3 separate regions of the Homo sapiens genome follow, and regions 2 and 3 are each linked to region 1. Evidence: fine-mapped expression QTL. A gene starts in region 1. Each other region holds a variant in brackets. All regions are shown on one strand. Distances are from middle to middle. Region 1 holds the start of MICOS10 (mitochondrial contact site and cristae organizing system subunit 10). Region 2 holds the start of LOC105376817 (a long non-coding RNA gene). Region 3 overlaps MICOS10-NBL1 (MICOS10-NBL1 readthrough).

Region 1 (5,000 bases):
ACCTTGTGAGCCACCCGCCTCGGCCTCCCAAAGTGCTGGGTTACAGGCGTGAGCCACCGTGCCCGGCCTTATTTATTAATTTTTATGTCCATTCGACAAGCATTTATTGAGAATCCGATATATACCAAGCTCTCTGCTAAGCATTAGGGATACAGAAATGGCACGGCCTCCATTCTCAATTTGCTCACAGTCAAAATCCAAAAGACACACAAATAATTGTTAAAATTACAAACAATTATTAAAAACACAAATCATCTGATAAGTAGCTGTGATGAGAATTAGAAGGGGCTGGGCATGGTGGTTCAGGCCTATAATCCTAGTACTTTGGGAGGACAAAGTGGGAGGATGGCTTGAGCCCAGGAGTTCGAGACCAGCCTGGGCAGCATAGCAAAACCTCACCTCTATAAAAAAGGAAAAGCAAAGAAAAATTTAAAGAATAGGAAAAATAGGGCTGGGCATGATGGCTCAAGCCTGTAATCCCAGCACTTTGGGAGGCTGAGGTGGGTGGTTCACCTGAGGTCAGGAGTTCAAGACCAGCTTGGCCAACATGGTGAAACCCCATCTCTACTAAAAATACAAAAATTAGCTGGGGGTGGTGGCACGTGCTTGTAATCCCAACTACTCAGGTGGCTGAGACAGGAGAATCTCTTGAACCTGGGAGGCAGAGGTTGCAGTGAGCCAAGATCATGCCACTGCACTCCAGCCTGGGTGACAGAGCAAGACTCTGTCTCAAAAAAAAAAAAAAAAAGAAAGAATAATTTAAAAAAATAGAGAACTAGGAGAAGGGAAGGGTGGTCATAGAAGTTATCTTGAAGGAAGAGGCTGTCGTAGCAAGATCTGATACAACAGAGTTTTGCTGTCATAGTTGCAAATAAATAGTTGAACGATGCCTGTAATCCCAGCACTTTGGGAGGCCAAGGTGGGTGGATCACTTGAGGCCAGGAGTCAAGACCAGCCTGGCCAATATGGCGAAACCCCATCTCTACTAAAAAAATACAAAAAGTTAGCCAGGCGTGGTGGTGGGCGCCTGTAATCCCAGCTATTTTGGAGGCTGAGGCAGAAGAATTGCTCAAACCCAGTAGGCAGAGGTTGCAGTGAGCCGAGATCGTGCCACTGCACTCCAGCCTGGGCAACAGAGCGCGACTCTCTCTCAATAAATAAATAAACAAATAAATAGGTGAATAAATTCAATTCAGTTCAACAAATATTTCATAGAAGACCCTACTATCCAAGGCATTGTGCTCTGACTGGAAGTATGAAGACGAAGGGGCAACTTCTAGTTCTACTAGCAGATAATATCTACAACCAGATGTTTCAGTACTAGATAGAGAAATCAATGCGGGTAGGCAGGGTAGTGGGACAATGAGAAGGGGAAGGCAGCTCTAAGCTCTATCTGACTAGGCTTCCTAGAATCAGTGCAGTGTTGAAGCTTGGATAGATCCAGTGTATGAATGGGAGTCATTGACAGCTTTTTTTTTTTTTCTTTTGTGATAGGGTATCACTCTGATGCCCAGGCTGGAGTGCAGTGGCATGAACATGGCTCAGTGTAGCCTCCACTTCCCAGGCTCAAGTGATCCTCCTACCTCAGCCTCCTAAGTAGCTGGGACTAAAGGCACACATCACATTAGCCTGGCTAATTTTTTAAATTTTTTGTAGAGACAGGAGTCTCACTATGCTGCCTAGGCTGGTCTTGAACTACTGGCCTCAAACAATCCTCCCGCCTCAGCCTCCCAGAGTGTTGGGATTACAGGTGTGAGCCACTGCTCTCGGCCTTCATTGACAGCTTCTAATCAGAGGCATAACGTGGTCAGATTTCTATTTGTTGGTAGGATGGAAGACTAAAATCAATGACACTAGCCAGTAGGCTGGATATACAATCTCTCTTGATAGCTGTGGGCATTTGGTTTCAGGATCTCGCAGTTACCAAAATGCAGGATGCTCAAGTCCCATATATAAAATGGCGTGGTATTTGCATACAACCTACACACATGCTTACATATCCTTTTTTAAAATTACTTATTTTTTTTTAAAGAGATGAAGTCGAACTCCTAGTCTCAAGCAATCCTCCCATCTCAGCCTCCCAAGTAGCTGGGACTACGGTCGCATGCCACTGCGCTGGCTCCCATATACTTTAAATCATCTCTAGGTTACTTATAATACCTAATACAATGTAAATCCTAGGTAAATAGTTGTACTGTATTTTAAATTTTGCATTATTTTTTATTTGATTCAAAAATGTTTCTGGTCCATGGTTGGTTAAATCCATGGATGCAAAACCCACAGATACAGAGGGCACCCTGTGTATGTATGTGTATGTGTGTGTGTGTGTGGGTGGGTGTGTAAATATATACATGGATAGGAGGCCTGAGGTAGACGTTTTACCTGGAGATATAATTTGGCAGTGTTTGCAATTACTCAGGGAGAGTCTGTACAGTGAAAAGAGAATTGATGGAAGCTTGCGAACCAACAGTCCTTAAACAGCTGGCAGAGAAAAGGCAGCCCTGGAGGAAACCAACAGACAACAGCAGATGGGGAGAAGAGGAAAGAGTGGCGTTACCGGGAGTGAAACGAATAGAGGAGCCAGGGAGGATCAGAGGGAGGGAAAATTGTGTGGAATGCGGTACAGAGGTCAGAAAAGAGTCCATTTGATTTGGCGGTAGGTAATCTTTCCCAGAGCAGTTTCGGTGTTAGTGGTTCAGGCGGGAATTCCAATGCAAGAAACCAGTGAACGAATGAGAGAGTGAGTAGGGAAAGTGAAGGTGAGTACGTTAATGAATGAATAAATCAAGTCTGTACCCTCTCTTGCCCGGGGGATTTCCAGGGCCAATGTCGCACTTTGGTGAGGAGGAAAGGCCTGGTCACGGCTTGGGGTGACGCCTAGGAAACTGTCAGCCTCGCAAACCCATAGGCGCAGCCCCAAGGTCAGGGTCACCTCGAGCCTCCAGACAACTCGTCACCTTGACGACCAACTGAAAAAACCGGAAGGGATGGAAGCAGCGGATCATCTCGCGATATCTGGAGCGTCTGCGCCTGCCTTCCTGACCTGGGACTTGTTTCCAGCTCTCGCGAGACTTTCAGGGGTCGGAGCGCGGGGGCCGGCCGAGAGGAAAGCTGGAGGCGCGGGTGGGGAACATGTCTGAGTCGGAGCTCGGCAGGAAGTGGGACCGGTGTCTGGCGGATGCGGTCGTGAAGATAGGTAAGGGGCTTTTCGCCCCAGCAGGCCCGGCCGGTGCAGAGCTGCTGGCTCCAGGCTGCGCTGCCCAGGAGGAAGGAAGGGAAGCCCCACGGGAGGTCAGGCCTCTCGGCCTTTTCCGGCCCCTCCGGCCAGGGCGAGCCGCCCGGGCCCCGGCGGGAGGTCACTCGGGCGGCGGGCACAGACCCGAGGAGCCGGAGCAGCAGCCCGGGTGCGGGGTGGAGTTGCAGCCCGGAGGAGGTGGTCGGGGTTGGCAGGTGGCAGGAGAGTCGCAGAGCTCTTGAGTGGAAGACAGTGTCGGGGCACACCCTCGTGCCGGAGCCGCGGGGTTCTCCTCCCGGGTGGTGCATTCCCCGGCACGCGGCGGGGAACCGGCTCAGGAGGCCACGCTGCTCCCCGGCGGAAACCAAAGTGCCTTCTGGAGAAGGTCACCTGGAGCATTTCATAGACACCGCCAGGCCCTGATGCGAGTTGCTGTCATTCCCGACTTGCCACCTGATTTATTTGAATCAGAGTAGTCTGGGGCCTGAACTTAGAGGGGTGATGATCTGGAATGAGAATTGCGCTGGAAAGTAAGAAGTTGTTCACGTTAAGTTTTTCTGCGTAGTCCTTTAACACGTGCTCAGTGACGGCACAAATTATGAAGTCACTGTATGGTGGGGAGGAGAAAGGAAACTCGTTTATTGAGCGTATATTGTCTTCATTGTGCGAAATAATCTTTTTACAGGCCGTGAAATGGAGAGTCAGGTGAAGGAATTTGCCCACGGTCACAGCTAACAAATGGCAAAATTAGGGATTTTACCCAGCTTTTCTGGGGTCAAGTCCCATGTTCCTTCTTCGATGCTAATTTTTGTTACCCAAATGTGATATTTTTGTGTGGTAATCTTAGGGTATTTAAGAGGATTTAGGATTGTGTCTTTGAATGAAAACATTGAGGAATAAGATTGTAAGCTCCATGAGAGCAGGGATGTTTTCTGGTTTAGTCACTGCCCCATCCCCAGCCCCTAAAAGAGTGCTTAATAAAAATTGTTGAGAGTGAGTCAATAAATGAAACAGTTTATAAGTTACCATTTCACCTCTGAATTCAGCACTTACAGTCAAGTGATTTGGGGCAAGTTATTTAACTTTTCTGTGCCTGATTCCTATTTGGAAATCGGCAGTAATAATTATTACTATCTCATGGAGTCGTTGGGAGGATTAAATGAGTTAGTTTGTTTAAAGGCTTGAATATGGATCACTTAGGAATGGGTTATTTTGGAAGCGACTAAACAGTCACTTTTGTTTTGTTACTGTTAACAGCTTGCAGTTCAGAGAGAAGACTTAACACCTAGCTATGAAATGACCAAAGTAGTTACTAGGCAATGTCATATAGTTAAGAAAGGGCTTTGAGCTGGGCGAAGTGGCTCAGGCCTGTAATCCCAGCACTTTGGGAGGCCGAGGCGGGAGGATCGCCTGAGATCAGGAGTTGGAGACCAGCCTGGGAAACAAAGTGAGACCCTTCCCTTAAAAAAAAAAAAAAGGAGAAGAAGAAGAAGGGGCTTTGGAGGTAGACAGAGCTGAGTTCGAATCATCCACTCTCACTCTTCTCGCCCATCCTTACTAATTTTGTAGCTTTGGGTAAAGTCTCTTTCTCAACTACGAAATGGTGATCAAAAGAGATTTACCTGAAAGTATTAAAAAAAGTAAAGGACAGAAAAATACATAAGCTACTTAGCACAGTGCCTGGTGCTTTATGTATACAGTAATGGTAGTCATAATAACTGGCTTTTAAAATTTTTTAATGTATTTTATTTATATTTATTTTTAA
Region 2 (6,921 bases), 68 kb before region 1:
TCGGTCTCTCAAAGCTCTGGGATTGTAGGTGTCAGTCACCGCACCAGGCCAGATATTCTCTTTCTTACTTCAAATATTGTCTAGTTCTCAGGATGTCTTTTTCATGACTGCAGAAGGACTTCCCATAGAAACTAGAACAATGTGTTTCTAGTTTACATTCAAAAAGACTGAGAACTTAGCAAAATTTTCCAGTATCTCTTTGGCCCACATTGGCCTCGACCTGCCATCCCTGAACCAAACATTAGCAAAAAAAAAAAAAAGAAAAAAAAGGTGGGTGATTGATTAGACTAATCAGAGGCCTAGAGGTGGCATCAATTCCTTGAGCCTCTCAGCCATTATTCTGCGGAGGAGAGATGGAGAGGATGTTGAGTGCCGAGCCCAAAGTCATCTACTTTAGGGAAGGTTCTAGCACCCAGAAATACCATCCAGCAGGCTCAAAATCTTCTCCACCAGCTGGGTGCAGTGGCTCATGCCTGTAATCCCAGCACCTTAGGAGGTTGAAACGGGAGGATCACTGGAGCCCAGGAGTTTGAGACCAGCCTGGGCAGCACAGCAAGACCCCACCTCTACAAAAAAAATTTTTAAAAATCAGCCAGGTGTGGTGGTGCGCCCCTGTACTCCCAGCTATTCAGGATGCTGTGGTGGGAGGATGGCTTGACCTGAGCCCATGAGGTTGAGGCTGCAGTGAGCCGTAGTCATGCCATTGCACTCCAGCCTGAGTGACAGAGCGAGGCCTTGTCTCAAAAGAACAACAAAACTTCTCCACCATTCATGGGACAAGAAAGCGCAACTCCTCCAGGGACCACCTTCAATGACCTTTGCCATGAAGAAGCAAAGAGCTCTTTTTTTTTTCCTTCTTTTTTTTTTTTTTCGAGAGGTTCTCCCTCTGTCACCCAAGCTGGAACACAGTGGTGTGATCACAGCTCACTGCAGCCTCGACCTCCTGGGATCAAGCAATTCTTCCACCTCAGCCTCCTGAGTAGCTGTAACTACAGGCGCACATCATCACGCCTGGCTAATTTTTGTATTTTTTTTGTGTAGAGATGGGGTTTCACCATGTTGCCCAGGCTGATCTCAAACTCCTGGACTCAAGGGATCTGCCTGCCTCAATCTCCCAAAATGCTGGGATTATAGATGTGAGCCACTGCACCCAGCCAAAAAGCTCATTTATACCATCTTTTTTCAAGCTGGCATGGAGCTGAGCTGTTACCAGTGATGTATGAGACTTCCCTAGGAAAACAAGACCCCAAAATTCCAGTCTTTCAGCACAGTATAGACAGCGCAGTGTAGTGAAGCAGCCCTTCCCTGGTTTCTGCACCTGTTCTACCCACCTCTCAGTTGTGGGACCTCAGGCAGAGCACATAGCTGTCCTGGTTGTGTTTCCCATTTGTAAAGTACAGGCTTACATTACAACACGAGTGAGTGTTCACCCATTGTTCTTCCTTTTAATGACATTTTACAAGGAAGCCCAACATAAAAGCAGATAAAAGCAAAGCTTCTCTGCTTGTAGTGAGAACAGGGACCTGGCCTTTCCCTCAGTAGAGCCACTGAGTCATTCTTTAACAAACACTTAAATTGTATTTACTTTAAGCTCAGCTCTAAGTGTATTACATGCATTAATTTAATATTTTACTTAAATCTTCTTAGTAACCCTGTGAAGTGGGCATTATAATGATCCACAATTTCCATGAGGGAGTTGAAGCCCAATGGAGTTGAGCAACTTGCTGAAGGTCACACAGCTCGTAAGTCACAGAGCCAAGATTCAAACCCAGACACTCAACTCCAGGATCCACGTCTCTATCTTTTTAAAGCCCAGTGACTCCACAAACCAGCTCAAAGCCACTCCGCTGGATGATGCCTAAGATACCCTTCAGTCTTCAAGTGTGTCAGCCTATGAGTAATAGTCTGGTGTGTTGCTTGTTTATTTCAGCATAGTAGACATCCTCAATCGAAATCCCACTGTCCAGCCTCCAGCACTCCATGCATGGGTGCAAGTGAGAGTGGTGGTAGGAAGAGCGATGGAGAGGGCATGTCTTCTGCAGATCCTCGATAAGTCTAAGTCCAGGCAGCTCACTCCAGTCCACTTCAACTAAAACCCATGGACTCTTATTTCAGGCTTTTGACTCTACTCCTACACCATAATCTCAGGAGGAGTATATTTTTCTAACCTCAACTCACATATTCACGGGGAATATGGGAGAGAATTGTAGTAGTAAAGGTTATCCTGGATATGGAGTGTCCCCAGAATCCTGATCACCCAACCTATAGCCCTGTGCTGTCCAATATGGTGGCCACATGTGGCTACTGAGCACTCAAAATATATGGTGAGGCCAAACTGAGATATGCTGTAAGTGTAAAATACACAACAGATTTTGATGACTTAGGATGAAACTTATA[T/G]GATGTACTTGGATCAGTCAAACTCATAGAGACAAACTAGAAGAGCAGTTACTAGGGGCTGAAGGGAGGATGGAATGAGGAATTATTTTTTAATGGGTACAGAGTTTCAGTTTTGAAAGATAAAAAAGTTCTGGAGATAAATAGTGCAAGCAATGTGAATCTACTTAATACCACTGAATTATACACTAAAAAATGGTTGAAATAGTAAATTTTATGTTATAGATTATATAAATATAGATTTATAAATAATTTTGGTATTATAGCATACATATATTAATATATACATATTAAAATATTCATGATATATAAATATTTTACGCATATATGTAAATACATATACACATATGTAGATATACACATATTATAATATATACATATTATGTATTTATGCAATGTATATACATATTAGTATACATATTAATATGTACATATCATAAATTAATACATATTATTCAATAATAAATATAAATTATATTACATGAATATTATATAATTGATATGTATATAATGTATATATAATATGTATATATACAGACTATGTATTATGCATTATATATTATATATACACATAATGTGTATATACACATATTATATATGTATACATATTATATATAACATGTATATATTTATACATATTATATTATTATATTTTTATCACTAGGTATATGTATGTTTATATATAAATATATAGTGGTAAAATATATACTTATATATATTAAAAGGTGGCTGTATATATAGTCATAAAATAAATATAACAAAATTTAAATAAATAATGTCTACTTCATGGGGAGATATATGTGTGTGTATGTGGTGTATATATACAATGGTAAAATATATACAGTGGGCCGGGAGCAGTGGTTCATGCCTGTAATCCCAGTACTTTGGGAGGCTGAGGTGGATGGATCACCTGAGATCAGGAGTTTGAGACCAGTCTGGCCAACATAGTGAAACCTCGTCTCTACTAAAAAAAAAAAAAAAAAAAAAATACAAAAAATTAGCCAGGTTTGGTGGTGTGCACCTATAATCCCAGCTACTCGGGAGGCTGAGGGAGGAGAATCGCATGAACCCAGGAGGTGGAGGTTGCAGTGAGCTGAGATTGTGCCACTGCACTCCAGCCTGGGTGACAGTGCAAGACTTTGTCACAAAAAATAAAATAAAAAATATGAAAAAATATATATAGTGGGTATATATATATATATAAAATAGTGGTCATATATATAGTGGTAAAATATATGTTACATAAAATTTAAATAAATAATGTCTACTTCATAGGGAGAGATATGTGTGTGTATGTGCATATGTGTATGCATATATATATATATATATATATATATATATATATATATATATATGAAGACCCTACTGGAAAATTTACAATGTGTTGACTGTATTTTAGTTGGGGAACAGATTCACTGTAGCGCAATTCTCAGCTCTGTTCTGCCACTTATTCTGTCACCGCTTTGAGGAGGTTAGATCAGAGATTTGATAGTCAGTTAAACCTAGGGTACACTCTTAGCTCTACCACTTGCTAGCTGTGGGACCAATACAAGTTACTAAAAAACAAAAAATATCAACTAATATTTATTAATTGATTGAGCATTTTCATTTATGGCAGGCACTGTACTGAGCATTTTACATACATTGTTCATTTCATCCTCATAATCACCCCATACCATATAGTCTACCATTTATTCCCACATTACATAAAGTGAGGCACAGAGAGGTGAAGTTGGCTAAGGTCACACAGTCAGCACGTGGGAGAAGCAGGACTCATCCCACAAAGCCAACTTCCCCATCAGACACCGCAAGCACAGGGCCCATGAGGCTTTATTTTATTCTAATAACATTGTTTTATTTTAATTTGTTTTAAACTTGGAAGAAAAACATAAATATAATAATAATGAGCATATAATAATGAATTCAGCAAGGCACAGTGGCTCACACCCATAATCCCAGCACTTTGGGAAACCAAAGCAGAAGGATCACTTGAGTCCAGGAGGTTGAGACCAGCCTGGGCAACATAGTGAAACCTCATCTCTATTATTACATTTTTTAAAATTAAAAAATAAAAAAATACATTTTAAAAATAGTGACTTCAGTCTGGATTAGATTTAACTTCATTCCAACATAGTCGTGAAATATAAAGTTAAATTTTTTTATGGAGGGAAGGGGCCCACAGAGGCAAGATTGCCTAGGGTCCATGAAATCAGGCCCCCTCACTGCAGGCCCCGGGCTTAAACTGTTACAGTTTACCAGCTCTCCGCACCCCAGCAAACCTGCTTGAAGACCATATATCTATGCGCACCCAGACAAGTCGTCCGTTTTGTATTTTCTCTCTCTTTTTTTTTTTTTTTTTTTTGAGACAGAGACCAGGCTGGAGTGCAGTGACGCGATCTCGACTCACTGCAACCTCTGCCTCCCAGGTGCAAGTGATTCTCCTGTCTCAGCCTCCCAAGTAGCTGGGATTGTAGGCATGCGCCACCATGCCTGGCTAATATTTGTATTTTTGGTAGAGATGGGGTTTCACCATGTTGGCCAGGCTGTTCTCGAACACCTGATCTCAAGTGATCCACCCACCTCGGACTTCCAAAGTGCTGGGATTACAGGCGTGAGCCACTGCGCCTGGCCCAAGTTGTCCTTTTTGTGTCTCAGTTTCCCCCTCTGTAAGATGGGAATAATAAAGAGTATTGACTTGTGTATGGCCATGAAGACACTGAGTAAATGTGCACACCTAAACCCCGTGCCTGACGCTCAGCAAAGGCTCCATAACATTTAGCTACATCTGACCTCATTCCTTGGGGCAGCAACAGGGTCTGGAGGTTTTCTCAGAGAGCCAGCTGTCTGACAGCCTCGGCGCAGCAACACCTCATCAGACACACCAGGAATTCCACAGCATCTTCACAGCAGACTCTGGAGAGATTCTGATCTAGTCTTCAACCAACCAGGGGAAATCCACGCTTGTGAAAACTTCCAGGCACCAGCAATAATTTCCCCCCTTCCCACGCTCCTCCCCAGTCTCCTGGGCCCTTTTCCATCTAGCTCTGTTTCTGCAGGAAGCAGGACAAAAAGGATTCCATTTTAAGCAAGTGTAGAAGAAAGAGCACAGACTCGGCACTCTTGGGACCTGGCTTTGCAGCTCGGCTCTGCCAAAAACAACGTTGGACAATTCACTCATGCTCTCTGAGCCTCAGAGTTGTCAGCTAGGTAACAGGAATCCATCATTAAAACAGTAATAATAACTGTCACTGTTATTACTAGAACACTCTATGGTGTAAGCATACAGACTTTCAGGTCAGAGTCCTTTGGTTCTGCCATGGCCTGGATGTCTGTGATCTGCACCCCTCCCAAATTCATACATTGAAATCCTAACCCCCAAAGTGATGGTATTAGGAGGTGGGGCCTTTTGGAGGTGACAGGTCATAAGGGTGAGCCCTCATGAATGTGATTAGTACCTTTGTAAAAGAGGCTCTAGAGAGACCCCTCACCCCTTCTACTACGTGAGGACACAGTGAGGAGATGCTATCTGTGAACCAGAAAGTAGGCCCTTATCAGATACTGAATTTGCTGATGTCACAGCCACTGGAACTGTGAGAAGTAAGTGGTTGTTGATTATAAGCCATGCAGTTGATGGTGTTTTTTTGTTATAGCAGCCCAAACAGACTAAGATTCACATCACGGGTTCTACCCCTTGAAAGTACATGACCTTCCCTTTCTAAGGTTTCTCATTTGTAAATGGGGAATAATAACAGCCCCCACCTCAAAGGGTTATTGGGATAATTAAATGAGATAATTAAATCCAAAGATCTTTGTAGTACTGGGCACACAGTAAGTGCTAGATAAAGGCCAGCAATTGTTGTTGTTATTATTATTATTATTATTATTGAGACAGGATCTCACTTTGTCACCCAGGCTGGAGTGCAGTGATGCAATCTTGGCTCACTGAAGCCTCTGCCTCCGAGGCTCATGGTCCTCCCACCTCAGTCTCCCTAGTAGCTGGGACTACAGGCACACACCACTACATCTGGGTAATTTTTTTATTTTTTGTAGAGATAGGATTTCACCATGTTGCCCAGGCTGGTCGCAAACTCCTGAGCTCAAGCGATCCTTCCGCCTTGGCCTCCCAGTGCTGGGATTACAGACATGAACCACTGTGCCCAGCTAGCAATGGTTATTTTAATTATAATGGTGTTTGTTCTTGAGCCCTGTAGCATATAATAGAGTTTTCCAACTGCACACAGTAATGGTCAATTAATAGCTGTTGAATGAGTGGATGAATGAATGGATGGATGAATTAGTGAATGAATCTTGCTATCACTGTCAATCTAGGACTCTTTTCTTCATACTAAATTCCCATTGTCCTAATGGCAGCAGGAGTTTTAGCAGCCTCAAGACTTTCAGGTTTCTTGTTTCTTTTTGATTTGATGAGGTGGTTTAAGATATGTCCACAATTTGACACTTCCTTCAAAAGGTGGACCCTATTTCCCTTCCTCTTGACTGTGAACTGAATTTAGTAACTCATTTGTA
Region 3 (5,000 bases), 27 kb after region 1:
ACCAGGTCAACTTCTTGTGTCTGTGACTTGTGCGGTAGGATTGGTCTGGGAATGAATCTAACAGGCCCTTTTGGCTTTGTGAAGACTTGTTACTACCCAGGTTGTCTAGCATTCTGAGCTGTATGGGGAGCACAGTCATATTTTGGCTGTATTTCACTGGCAGTAGAAATCTTGACATTCCAATTTCCCTTGAGGGGTAGTAATTGTTTAGGGGTTGAAACTGGAGAGGAATCCAACATCTGGACATGGCAGGTACAGTAGCATTGGAGTCTGGCAGACTTGAGCCCAGATGACTGTTCCGCAACTAACTAAACAATATCCTTGGGCAAGTCATTTTCTTCATCTGGGGCTCTGGAGGGCCGTCTTTTTCCTCTGCCTAGATATTCTGGCTTGTGTGATAGCTCAGCCTTTAGGAATTGTTCTGGATTACTGCTTTTTATCTTCCTCAAAAAGTAGCCATCACTCCAAGTGCTGAGGTGACAAGGGGAGCGTCCTGTTGGCACTATCTCATGTTTTGGCTGTGGTATCCCTCTTTGAGGTGGGTAGGAGAGCCCAGGATGCTGGAGGCTCCTTGCCAGCAGTGTAGAGAGGGTCCACTCTAGAACAGTCTCCTGGCTTGTTCCCCTGCCCCACACCCCGCAACTTGTCTAGAGAGAACAGGGAGTCAAGTTTTTATTTCATGTTGGGCAGGAGAACCAAAGGCATCTGTAAAACCTCTGACAAATAAAGACGGTTAGAAATTAGAAAATTAATTCTCTACCAAATTATGAAAAAAAATCTGTTTAATGATGTTCACATTTAAGAAATGTTAATGTTATCTTTGTGAAGTTACTGCTATGAGATTTAGCATGTTTTTTCTCCCTCTTTGTAGGTACTGGTTTTGGATTAGGAATTGTTTTCTCACTTACCTTCTTTAAAAGTAAGTGTCACTCTGTCTTTTCAACATAATGTCATAGTGTATACATATACGTAGCAGGGACACTTCCAGAGGACACATTGGAACCCATCAATTTGTGGGTTGCCAACCCATCCATTTATGGGGTTAGGTAGCCCATTATAAAATGAATTAGATAAAGAATGTGGACTTGAAAGAGGTCAAAATGGGTTGGGCATCTCCAGCATTCCCCTGGGCACTGAGGCAGGGTGCCTGTTATCCTAAATATGATATCATTGCAAAAGCCTGTACTTGATGCCAGTGAGTCATTTGGCCAAGTCTACACGCTCAGATATTTCTAATTAATTGTGATTTTTTCTAGAGGAATTGAAAATGAGAATCCTGCTGGTAATAGAAACAAGTAGACCAGAAATACACATACTTCTTGGTCAAAAATTATCCTAAGCAAAGGGCAGGCAATATTCTTTTCATTCTGTGGAAGAACTTCTGAAGTTTGGATACCGAATAGATGCCAGAGGGATCCTTTTGACCTCTTTCCGTGAAGAACCAGTGGGAAATACTTGACTAGAGAATCATAATTAACACATAGTGCTGATATGAAAGAATCACTTACAGAGTGGCTTAAATAAACCCCATGACTTACTACTACAATCAAAGCATGTAAATATCGGTAAAATGCTTACATCTTTTTAGAATTCATGCATCTTACTGGCTAAGATATTAGTTAAACTGAGCAGATGATTAGAACTGATATAGAGAAGTTAAAAGGTTTATCTAGTGTTTTCATATTTTACTACTTTTTTTTTTTTTTTTTTTTGAAACGGAGTCTTGCTCTGTCGCCAGGCTGGAGTGCAGTGGTGCGATCTCAGCTCACTGCAACCTCCGCCTCCCTGGTTCAAGCGATTCCCCTGCCTCAGCCTCCCAAGTAGCTGGGATTACAGGCACACGCCACCATGCCTGGCTAATTTTTTTGTATTTTAGTAGAGACAGGGTTTCACCATGTTGGCTAAGATGGTCTCGATCTCCTGACCTCGTGATCCGCCCGCCTACGCCTCCCAGAGTGCGGGGATTACAGTTGTGAGCCACCGCGCCTGGCCTTTACTACTTATTTTCCTCAAACTTATCAGCATAGGCACTTAACAAGTATTTGCTAAATTAATAACTTCACTAATTTACACCTCTTTTTTGGGGCCATTGTGAAACATTGATAAAAATGTATGGTTATTATAGTCATTAGTATGATGCACGTTGAATATTTATTGAACCCTAAGTAAATGTATTTAAGAGGATGGGGAGCTTTATCTTCTCTTAATAATTCCCTATTGGGATTTTCCCTTTTTTGCTCACTAGGAAGAATGTGGCCATTAGCCTTCGGTTCTGGCATGGGATTAGGAATGGCTTATTCCAACTGTCAGCATGATTTCCAGGCTCCATATCTTCTACA[T/C]GGAAAATATGTCAAAGTATGTACAGAATATATATTTCTCTTTCCTTCAGAAGAAAAAGATTTCTCCTGAGCCCTGAAGAATTCTTTAGACTGTTTGTAATGAGTAAACCATGTGTGTCATTGTGGCACCACTCTCAGATACTAATTGCTCTTTGGCCTTCAGTGATGTCATCACTGCTTTGGTGCTAAAGTCTCCCCTGTGCCTTCAGATGCGTATGTACGTTCAGATATATACTCATGTGCTAGCCGATTGGAATTAAGGAGCCTGCTTGAATGTTTATCATCAATGGTAAGGTAGATTGTGTTAACTATCTGTAAGTAGCACTTTTCATTTAAGAGCTCAGAGTGCCCTGTAAACATCTCACATATACTTAAGCTAAACCCAAAGACTTCCGGGACTCAGCCATGATTCTGCTTTTTATTAATTTGTTTCATTTTTTTGAGACGGAGTCTTGCTTTGTCGCCCAGGCAGGAGTGCAGTGGTGCCATCTTGGCTCACTGCAACCGGGTTCAAGTGATTCTCCTGCCTCAGCTTCCTGAGTAGCTGGGATTACAGGCACCTGCCACCACGCCTGGCTGATTTTTGTATTTTAGTAGAGACGGAGCTTCACCATGTTGGCCAGGCCGTGGTTCTGCTTTTTAATTGAAGAAGGCAGTCTGGACTGTAAGTCTCACATTCTACTGAAGTCCTGTCTTCAGGTGGATTTTTATTTTTATTTTATTTTATTTATTTTGTGGGGATGGAGTATCACTCTGCCACCAAGGTGGGAGTGCAGTGGCACAATCTTGGCTCACTGCGACCTCTGCCTCCCGGGTTCAAGCGATTCTTCTGCCTCAGCCTCCCGAGTAGCTGGGATTACAGGCACGAGCCACTCACGCCCGGCTAATTTTCGTATTTTTAGTAGAGGTGGGGTTTCACCATGTTGGCCAGGCTGGTCTTGAACTCCTGACCTCAGGTGATCCACCCGTCTCGGCCTCCCAAAGTGCTGGGATTATAGGTGTGAGCCACTGTGCCTGGCCTTCAGGTGGATTTTTAATGCTGCACACAAGCTGGAAACTTCTTACCCACACCTCCAAAGGGAAGAGGGCAGCAGGCTTCCTCAGGGCTTCGTGTGTAGCAGTATTTTCCTTACTTGATGATTAGTTACTGTGGGGTTTAAGTGACAGGAACATTGGAGGCTGGGTGCCCAAGGACAGAGGTGGCACTTATTTTGTATTCCCAGGGCCTGAAACAAAATAGCACTCAAATAAATGTAAAATGAATGAATGAGGTAAATTATTCTATTAGAGGTAAGTGCCGATGGCCTCAGGCTTACTAAGGCATAACCTTTGTAGCAGCACAATTTTCAGTGAACAACTTCACATTCCCTGCATGCACAGAAGCCTCAGCTTTCCAGGTTACTCTTGGGCTAGAATCACTGTGAACGGGGCTGCAGTGGGGCTAGTGGAAAGGGCACAGAAGCCAGGAGACCTAGGTGCAAGCCTGTCACTTGCTTCCTGTGTGATCTTAAGTTGTTTCACTTCTGAGCTTCCATTTTCCTCCATAAAATGAGGGTAATAATTTCTACCTATAGTGTTGTTGTGAGATTTAGACACAAAATGTTTTTAAGCTGTGAAGTACGAAATATATAAAAACATTGGTTATTATAGATGAGGCCAGCCCAAAAAGGGTGATTGACTTGTCCATTGTTCCACTGTAACAACAAGTAGAGTGGAAAATGTGGTACAAATGCATGTCCTAATTCTAGTCAGGAGCTGTGGCCACAAGGGCCACCAAATCCAAAGTAGCAGTATCCTGCCACGGCCCTGCACCTGCCATTTTAGAACCTGCTGAAACCGTCAGCTGCCTGCAGCCAGCCCATGTCTGCTGGAGAGATGGGAGTAGGGGAGCCATCTCTGCACCAAAGCAAGAGTGAGGTCATCACAGGGACCATGCAAGAAGAGGCGCAGCTGTGTGGCACTGAAGCCGGCAGCCGGCCTTTTCCACCACTCCCTGGCTCCTCGCTTTCCTGGCATCAGAGCTGATTGTGGGGAGAACCGAAAGGAGCAGACAGAGAAGCTTCAGGTCTTTTGCTTAAAACATTTCCATTGTTCCAAACTGAGTTGTCAGGGATAATGGCTCAGGGGTGATTATATGCATATTATGTATTTAATGGCTGGGAGTTCCTGTGGAAAATATTGTTCCATTTTTTACATTTGTGTGTCCTGCTCCAAAATGGCCTTGTAACTTTATCTGGACTTGAGTCTGTGCCTCGATGTTGTCATCCTCCATTCCCTGAAAAATGGAGCAAAATCCCAACCTGGGCTTATTCAGTGTAGTCCTATTGTAATAACTGCCTCCTGAGTGCCCAATCTGCCCCCAGGACCATCCTGGGTGCTTTATCTTTAATAATCTTTCCCTCTAGACCTGCCAGTTGATTTGTGAGAGATGTTACTATCCTCATTCAGCTGATGAGAAAGCAGACTCTTACCGGGGTTGAGAAACTTGGCAAGGCCATGTAGTTCGTAGGCTGATGAGAACCATGCTCTCCCCACTCCCCTGGGACGCCTTCGACAGGTTTTAGGAATTGTTATCCAGGTCATGATGGTTTGGCCCTGTTCCACTCGTTTCCCACTCTTCTCCCTGGAAGATTGGGGCTGGATGGCACTCTTAGGAACCTA

The links. PIP is the estimated chance that this variant, and not a neighbour inherited with it, causes the effect. A credible set is the group of variants that fine-mapping cannot tell apart.
Region 2: its variant is the best candidate, but not a certain one, in a credible set for the expression of MICOS10 in whole blood (INTERVAL, PIP 0.88).
Region 3: its variant is the best candidate, but not a certain one, in a credible set for the expression of MICOS10 in whole blood (TOPMed, PIP 0.64).

What each region holds. Positions count from the first base shown.
Region 1 is chr1:19,593,914-19,598,913 of GRCh38, forward strand. MICOS10 (mitochondrial contact site and cristae organizing system subunit 10) reads left to right here and starts at 3,066. Exons shown (of 4, transcript NM_001032363.4): 1 at 3,066-3,196. The coding sequence starts at 3,133. MICOS10-NBL1 (MICOS10-NBL1 readthrough) reads left to right here and starts at 3,066. Exons shown (of 4, transcript NM_001204089.2): 1 at 3,066-3,196. MICOS10-DT (MICOS10 divergent transcript) reads right to left here and starts at 2,919. Exons shown (of 2, transcript NR_135054.1): 1 at 2,797-2,919. RefSeq lists an enhancer at 2,859-3,158 and a silencer at 3,279-3,488.
Region 2 is chr1:19,524,481-19,531,401 of GRCh38, forward strand. LOC105376819 (a long non-coding RNA gene) reads left to right here. Exons shown (of 4, transcript XR_947020.3): 3 at 1,648-1,908. LOC105376817 (a long non-coding RNA gene) reads right to left here and starts at 5,365. Exons shown (of 4, transcript XR_947017.3): 1 at 5,185-5,365. The variant T/G (reference allele first, on the strand shown) is at 2,398.
Region 3 is chr1:19,621,229-19,626,228 of GRCh38, forward strand. The region is part of intron 1 of MICOS10-NBL1 (MICOS10-NBL1 readthrough); the gene reads left to right. It overlaps MICOS10 (mitochondrial contact site and cristae organizing system subunit 10), which reads left to right. Exons shown (of 4, transcript NM_001032363.4): 2 at 872-919; 3 at 2,246-2,355. Among named protein-coding and RNA genes, the nearest start is that of NBL1, 21 kb to the right of the region's middle. The variant T/C (reference allele first, on the strand shown) is at 2,340.